Linked DNA regions of Homo sapiens: all the other regions are linked to region 1. The links come from fine-mapping of genetic effects on gene expression. A gene starts in region 1. Each other region holds a variant in brackets. All regions are shown on one strand. Distances are between the middles of the regions.

Region 1 (2,757 bases):
AAAATCTTTAGCCCTGATAAAGGATTTAACTGCTTGGGGCAGTGAGGTAAGGGGATGAAGAAAAAGAAGCAGGTCTGAAAGAGACCAAGACCTGGAACGTCTACCCCAGAGGTGGTGGTCCTAAGGGGTTCGGGGAAGGAAGGGGGTGCTCTGAGGGGAAAACAGGCATTGCCGTGGGGGGGGGGGGTCTGGTCTTGTCTCTTAAGGGAATGCCCAAACCACACCGCCGCCTCTCTAGAGTGAGTTCCCAAGAGCAAAATTTCCACCTTTCCAGGAGAGGCAGCCCAGAAGAAGGCAGGGGGCGGATTTACAAGCAGGCAGCTGTCCCTCCCCACGGCACCCACCTGCAGATCTCCCACCCGAGTCCCCTGCGGAGGAGCCTTGTGTGTGTGTGTGTGGGGGGGGTTGGGGAGGTGGGAGATCAGCTAGGTTGGACACTTAAATCCTGAGGTCCAGAAAAAGTTCTCACCTTCATAGAGATTATAGGGACAGGAGATTGAGGAGCAGACAAGAGAGGGGCGAGAAAAGGTGAGACGGAGGGGAAAGAAGAGTAGGGGAGCCAGGGAGGGTGGAGAAGGAAAAAATGAAAAAGGAACGGGGGTGGGAATAGATGGGGGGACAGAGAAAGGGGTGAGAGGAGAAAGAGTCCAGGAGGAAAGGGAGAGGAGGGTATGGGAGAGGGAGGCTAAGGAAGAGGGATGGAAGAGAACTATGAAGGGATGAGGAGAGAATGAGCAAGCTAGAGAGACCAGAGAGACGGCAGAGACCGATACCAGAGAGACGGGCAGAGACTGAGACCAGACGGGGACGGGAGAGACGGGACGGAAAGCAGGGGCAGGAAGAAAACGCTCAGGGAAAAGAGGTGGAGGCGCTCGGAGCATCCCCGTGGGGCGCTGGTGTAGTCAGAGCAGGGAGCGAGATGGCCGGAGGGGCCGGCGCTGGCCCTCACCACGGGGCCCGGGCGCCCGGCGGCGCTGCAGACCCGATCTCGGCCCCGCGCCCCCAGCCCCGGCGCGCTCGCCTTACCTGGCCCTTGACCAGGCTGGCTGCGAACTGGCGCATGACGGCCTCCACGGTGTAGGCGCTGGACCAGCCGCGCGGCGTGAGCAGCTCCATGCAGATGGCGCCGCCGTCCAGCACGTAGCCGTTCTCCAGGCGCGGGCTGAGCACCCGCATGAAGGGCGGCGAGAAGGGGAAGTTGTCGGGGAAGGTGAGGTTGAGCAGGATGAACTCGGTGTTGGTCTCCTTCATGTCCTGCCACAGCACCGAGTCCTTGTCCACCTGGTGCAGCTTCACGTTCCAGTCGAACAGGCTCTCGTCCACCAGCTCCACGGAGATGAAGCGGTCGCTAAGGCGCGCGATGTCCTGCAGCTCCTTCATGAGCCGCCGGCTGCGCACCTGCGTGCAGTGTTGCTGGCGCGCCGCGGGGACCAGGCTGCCGCCCGCCGCCGCCGCCACCGCCGGGCCCGGCCCCGCCCTGGCGCCCGCTGCCCTCTCGCGGGGGCCCCCGGCCCCCGCCGCAGCCGCCGCCGCCGCCGCCGCAGCCGCCGGCGCCTTGTCGCGCGGGGCCAGCTCCGCCGCGCGCTTGCCCTTTCCCTTGCCGGGTCCCGGGCTGGCGTCGCCCGCGCCCCCGGGGTGCTGCTGCTGCTGCCACTGTGTGGTGTGTGTGTGCGAGCGTGGTGTGTGTGCATGTGATGTGTGAGTGTGGTGTGTGGTGTGTATGTATGTATGGTGTGAGTGTGGTGTGGTGTGTGTGTGAGTGTAGTGTGTGTAGTGTGTGGTGTTTGCATGGTGTGTGTGAGCATAGTGTATGAGTGTGTCGTGTGTGAATGTGTGATGTGTGTGTGGTGTGTGTGGGGTGTGAGTATGGTGTATGAGTGTGTGGTGTGTGTGCATGTGTGTGCTTGTGTGATGTGTGAATGTGTGATATGTGTGGTGTGTGTGTGGGGTGTGTGAGCGTGGTGTATGAGTGTGTGATATGTGTGTGCGTGTATGTGGTGTTAGTGTGTGAGTGTGTGGTGTGTGACTGGGATGTGGTGTGAGGGTGTGGTGTGTGTGTGCTGTGTATGTAATGTGTGTATGGTGTGTGTGAGAGTGATGTGTGAGTGTGTGAGGGTGTTTTGTGTGTGGTGTGAGGGTGATGTGTGTGGTGTGTGTGTGTGGTGTGTGTGTGGTGTGTGTGAGTAGTGTGTGTAATTGTGTGTAGTGTGTGGTGTGTGTGGTGTGTTGTGTGTGAGCGTGGTGTGTGTGCTTTGTGTGAATGTGTGGTGTCTGAGTGTGGTGTGTGGTGTGTGTGGTGTTTGCATGGTGTATGTGAGCATAGTGTATGAGTGTGTAGTGTGTGAATGTGTGGTGTGTGTGGTATGTGTCGTGTGTGTGGTGTATGAGTGTGTGGTGTGTGTGTAGTGTGTGTGCATGTGTGTGCTTGTGTGTGGTGTGTGAATGCATGATATGTGTGGTGTGTGTGGGGGTGTGTGAGCGTGGTGTATGAGTGTGTGGTGTGTGTGTAGTGTGTGCGTGTGTGTGGTGTTTGTGTGTGTGTGGTGTGTGACTGATGTGGTGTGTGTGTGGTGTGTTTGTGGTGTGTGTGTGAGGGTGTGTGTGGTGTATGAGTGTGTGGGAATGTGTGTAGTGTGTGCGTGTGTGCGGTGTGTGTGATGTGTGTGTGATGTGTGTGGTATGAGTGTAATGTTTGTGGTGTGTGTGTGATGTGTGTGGTGTGTGGTGTGTGTGTGCAGTGTGTGTGTGGTGTGTCTG
Region 2 (2,757 bases), 44 kb after region 1:
GGTTTAACCTGTGTTTTTCCAGAGAAGCCTTTGGCGTGGAATGGGCATTCCTGGAGCCACTGGAATTGTGTGGTGGCAGGAGCCCGGAAGCTGGTATGCCTCTGTGAGAGTATCCTTGCTGAGGAGTGGGGGGGGTGGGGGGGCACAGCTATTTGACCTCTAGGGCACCTCACCCCCCGCAGGAACAGGGTATGGCCTGTGCAAGCAAAAATACGCGATCAAGCTGTGTCTTTCTGCAGCCAGTTGTCCCATGGTCAACTCTGAGGGCTCCTGAGATGGACCATGCTATGAAATTGGAGCTGTCAAGGAGGAATCAGGCTCATTACAGAGATCCCTGCTCACCAGTGCTTCTGCCACAACAATAAGTCATGCCATCAATTTTCAAAGTGCTGATGCAAATGCCCATGGATCATGTTCAAGATTTTATGAAACTTAATTAAACAAGATTATTCACCTGTATTATGTAACTGTACATGCATATTTGCACTTAACAGTATTTCTAATTCAATGTCAACATCACAATTCACAATGAAATATGACCCTGAAAATGAAAGATGGAAGTTGACATGAACACTTTTAAAAGATTTTTAATGTGCTTCTCACTGAGATATGTAGCATTTTCAACTTTTGTACAATCTGAAATGCATTCAGCACATTGGTAAAGAGCTGTGCAGATTTCAGTTAAAAAACAAACAAACAAACAACAACAACAACAAACAAACAAAAAACACAAACTGTTGCTAAAGCCAGAAGGGACATTTCAAATGGCTTTTTTTTGAACTACATTCCATGGAAAAATTTTATTTCACTTGTGCCATAGAAACATGGGCTTCTGGCACTGGGACAAACCCTACAGGTCATTGGTCACAGAGCCCCATTTTGCAAGTGAGTGACCAGAAGCCCAGAGGAGGAAAGTGGCCCACCAAGGCTGCCACTAACGAGGGGAGAACCATGCACTTGAGTTGGGGCTGATGGCAGTTCTGGGCATGCCCACTGTTTGCTCAGGGAGATGCAGGCCTTGCTGGCTTCGGAAGTAACATCCGTGGATTTGACATCCCCGCCCCCCATAGATCCTGTTATTCTCAAGGCTCCTTTTCTTATATTTTGAAATTTTCTTCCAATACTTTGCCAATATTAAGTTACTTGCTAAGAATGCTGGGCAGAAATAATCAGATGGAA[T/C]AGCCAAAAGATCGGTTATCACATTCAACTAGTACAGTCCTGCTACAAAACCACCTGTATTAAAACAGAGAGAATGGCAGGCGCCAGATGGTTGAAAAGGGAACTTTATTTGTGTGTGCCAAGTGGAATTGAGAAATATTTGGTCAACAAATATTTCTCAGGCTGGGCCTGGTGGTTCACGCCTGTAATCTCAGCACTTTGGGAGGCCAAGGTAGGTGGATCACTTGAGGTCAGGAGTTCGAGATCAGCCTGGCCAACATGGTGAAGCCTCATCTCTACTAAAAATACAAAATTAGCCAGGTGTGGTCGGGGGCTCCTGTAATCCCAGCTACTCGGGAGGCTGAGGCAGGAGAATCACTTGAACCCAGGAGGTGGAGGGAGGTGGCAGTGAGCCAAGATCACACCACTGCACACTCCAGTCTGGGCGACAGATTGAGGCTCCATTTCAAAAAAAGAAACCCAACAAATATTTCTCATTGAGATTCTGTATCCTGATGTGCATTGATTTCAAAATTGATAAGTTTTTTATTTTTTATTTTTGAGAAGGGGTCTTGCTCCGTTGCCCAGGCTGCAGTGCAGTGGTGTGATCATAGCTCACTGCAGCCACGGACTCTTGAGCTCATAGAATCCTCCTGTCTCCCTCCTGAGTAGCTGGGACTACTGAGGCCACCATGCCTAGTTAAAATTAATAAAATTTAAAGTTGTTAGTGGAACAAATGCACCATGTAAATGTATACTACATAGTCCCATTAAAACACTCCAAAGAAGAGGTAAGCTTCCCAGGTAAACTCTAGACACATCATCTTTTGTTTCTTCACTGAATTTCACTGCAAGTCAAATAAAGGAAAGTTAATAAGGGAATAGAAATACATTCTTTAAAGTATTAAGCAGATATAAAGATTTGGAATCCAAAGTAGATTTCTGAGGAAATGGTATGAAAATAATTTCTCACAGCAGCTGGTTTGAGAAAATTCCCATCTTTAAGATCCCAGGAAATGCTTGGAAGAGTTTATCATTACCAGAATAATTTTAAAAATCATTAATTAGGATACAGCCTTATGTCTTCCTTATAAGCACGGTAGTCACACAGAGATATAGCCATATGTGATTCAATTTTTTAAAAGAAAAATGGTCTGTGTGTATCTGGAATGAACAGTCTTGGGGAATGTGTCAGCTGGTATTTAACCACACATCTGGATGCTCATGATCTGAGGTCCATGTGCCTGGCTGGGGAACAGTGTCCTGTGGGTCACGTGGCACAGTGAGTAGAAAAGTCCCAGATGGGAAAGCCCCAGTCAACCAGCCAGTGATGGCTGTTCTGTTCTCTGTCATTTATTCACTGTGCAAATTTGTTCGAGTTACTTACGCATTTTGTTCTTCACCTGTAAAATGAAGACATCAGAGTGGCTAACCTCTAAGGCCTCTTAGAATTCCTAACACATTACAATTCGTCAAATCTCTGACTCTTCTTAGGAGCCATCTAAATCAGCTCTGACAGCTTCATAAGGAGTCTTGAAGAACCATTTGGCTTCCAAAAATTCACCTGCCCATTCAGACAATAATGGTTGGAATGGATTT
Region 3 (2,757 bases), 70 kb before region 1:
GGATGCTCCAGGATGCTCCAGGGTACAGGATGTTCCAGGGTATAGGATGCTCTGGGGTACAGGATGCTCTGGGTAGAGGATGCTCTGGGGTACAGGATGTTCTGGGATACAGGATGCTCTGGGTAGAGGATGCTCCGGGGTACAGGATGTTCTGGGATACAGGATGCCTTGGGTACAGGATGCTCCAGGGTACAGGATGCCCCGGGGTACAGGATACTCTGGGGTACACGATGCTCCGGGTAGAGGATGTTCTGGGGTATAGAATGCTCTAGCGTACAGGATGCCCTGGGGTACAGGATGCCCTGGGGTACAGGATGCTTTAGTGTACAGTTGAAATAGACATAGGATGTGCAGTTAAGTTTGAATTTCAGATAAAAACAATCAACATTTTAGTGTAAGAATGTCCCATACCACATTTGGGACATACTTACACTAAAAAATCACTCGCTGTTTATCTGAAATTCAGCTTTGACTGGGCAGTCTGTATTTTTAATTGTTAAATTTGGCAACCTGCCTGAGATAGGAAATGTGACCCTGCAGAGACATGATTCAATCATTCAGGACTTTTTTTTTTCTGGGCTTCCACAGGTCCAGCCCTCTCTGAGGCCTCATCAGAATCCCCGGGGATTTGTTCACTCTCCTCCACTTGTTCTTGTAACAGATGCTTATTGAGCACCCTACAACCAGGAAACTGGACTTTACAACAGGGTGGTGAGGGCTATGACCCAGTCGGGGTGCCAGGAGGAGGGGCAGGTGTGGAGAAGCATAGAATGGGCAGGATCAACCCAACCTGGAAGGGTCATGGTGGCCTGTGTGGGGCTGATCTAGCCTTGCCCCAGGCCAGGAACAGAATGAAGTCCACTCTGGTGGGCAGAGAACAGGTGAAACGGGGGGAGGCAGTGAGAGATGGGAGGTTCCTCCATGCCAGGTGGTGCCTAGGCAGTTGGGTGCACCTGTGCACAGATCTTCACCACACATAGAGAGCCATAAATTCCAGTTTAATACACAAGGAGTGCACACTGTGAAAGTTGTCAGATTCAAAATGGAGTCACTTGTGTCAACCTCTGACAAATAGTGCCAGGGAAGCAGCGGGGGTTCTCACGTACCATTTGCCTGATAATGAGAGCTCTCACAAGAAATTTTCCCAAACTGGAGCTCACTAAGGAGTCACACGAGGGCAGCCAGCAGCACCAGGGCAGCCAGCAGCACCAGGACAGCCCCCTGCTCACACAAGAACACTCGCCTGGCACATTGTCACACAAGCCCCATACAAAATGACAAGGACCTAACCCTAGCTCCAAGATTGCAAGTCACACCCAGCAACCGCTCACATTTGCCCGTTGGCACGCACCAGCTCTTGCAAGTCACTGCCAGCCCCAGTGAACTTTCTTTCAAAAC[G/A]ACATGGGGCAACTCCTCTTTCCCCTATCAACTCTAACTTTTCCTTTGTTCTCTGTACCCACCAGAGGTCACCCTGGTCTGTATGGATGTCCCAGATTGTAATCCTACTTCTTGTATATTATTCCAAATTAAACCTTCTTATTTAGAGATTCAGCTCTCTTTTTTTTTATGTTGACATAACCTGTTGTCAGAAGTGGGGTTTGAAGCTGACTCACCTTGGAGAGATCAACGCCCCTGGAAGGATTGCATGGGGTGCCCACTCTGGGGCTCCTTGAGTGTCCCTGCCCCTGGCTTCCAGGGGTTGCTTCCTCCCCCGGTACCATGACTCTTTCTTGAGTTGAGCTCTCATTTTTGTTTCAGTTGAGTTCTTTGGTTTTATTTGGGTTTTGTTTGTGAGGGGTCTTTTCCCCTCCTGCTGCTGAGGTCTCCTATTAAGAGGGGTGATATGGTTTGGCTGTGTCCCCACCCAAATCTCATCTTGAATTCCCACGTGTTGTGGGAGGGACCTGGTGAGAGGCAATTGAATCATGGGAACAAGTCTTTCCCATGCTGTTCTGTTGATAGTGAATAAGTCTCATGAGATCTGATGGTTTTAAAAAGAGGAGTTCCCCTGCACAAACTCTCTTTCTTTCTTTTTTTTTGCCTTCTGCCATGTATGTAGATGCGATTTGCTCCTCCTTCCCTTCTGCCATGATTGTGAGGCCTCCCCAGCCATGTGGAACTGTGAGTCCAATTAAACCTCTTTCGTTTGTAAATCGCCCAGTCTAAGGTATGTCTTTTTCAGCAGCATAAAAATGGACTGATACAAGGGCCTTTTCTTCTCCTGATTTATGAGGGACTTTCCCTCCTGTTAAAGAAGGCTTTGTCGTCCTTCCCAGTGAGCACATACCTTATTCTTTGGTTTCATTTTGCACGCCTGATATTTTGCTTTTATGTGCTTGGCCTTAGTGCTGACTTGCCTCGATACATTGGTTTAAAGTATGGGCTCTTAAAGTTCAAAGGCAGGCTAAGATAGTTCCCTTCTTCTGGGACTCTAGCTGGTGACACGTTCAAACATTATGGAGGTCATTCAAACGGTTTGTTTTTCTTAGAACTATACGAAAAGACTCTGACTTAAAATCAGATAGTCCAGATAGGATGGGCATCTCAGTGGGTAACTCAAAGCTTCAAGCTGCACCCAGGACTCAAGGACTGCCTTCCTGCAAAACACTGTCTCAAAGCCAGCTGGGCTGTCTCCCCTTGGGAGCCTTGCCCACCTTCCCACGCCTCCTCCTCAAGCTAAAATCTATTTTCCAAAACTCCTCAGCTATTCTGGCATACTGACTATATAAGTAACAACACTTGAAAAACAGCAGGTAC

Which allele goes with the higher level. Alleles are on the strand shown, and positions count from the first base shown. SD is a standard deviation of normalised expression in the study named. Not every link is listed here.
In carriers of allele C in region 2, the expression in sun-exposed skin of the gene that starts at base 1,415 in region 1 tends to be higher than with T alone (moderate effect, 0.70 SD a copy in GTEx).

The links. PIP is the estimated chance that this variant, and not a neighbour inherited with it, causes the effect.
Region 2: its variant is fine-mapped to the expression of UBE2QL1 in sun-exposed skin (GTEx, PIP above 0.99).
Region 3: its variant is fine-mapped to the expression of UBE2QL1 in sun-exposed skin (GTEx, PIP above 0.99).

Annotation. Positions count from the first base shown.
Region 1 is chr5:6,447,517-6,450,273 of GRCh38, reverse strand. UBE2QL1 (ubiquitin conjugating enzyme E2 QL1) reads right to left here and starts at 1,415. Exons shown (of 2, transcript NM_001145161.3): 1 at 1,027-1,415. The coding sequence starts at 1,380. LOC105374639 (a long non-coding RNA gene) reads right to left here and starts at 937. Exons shown (of 2, transcript XR_007058679.1): 1 at 1-937. RefSeq lists a silencer at 1,383-1,452.
Region 2 is chr5:6,403,988-6,406,744 of GRCh38, reverse strand. No RefSeq gene overlaps it. Among named protein-coding and RNA genes, the nearest start is that of MED10, 27 kb to the right of the region's middle. The variant T/C (reference allele first, on the strand shown) is at 1,180.
Region 3 is chr5:6,517,147-6,519,903 of GRCh38, reverse strand. No RefSeq gene overlaps it. Among named protein-coding and RNA genes, the nearest start is that of LINC01018, 64 kb to the left of the region's middle. The variant G/A (reference allele first, on the strand shown) is at 1,399.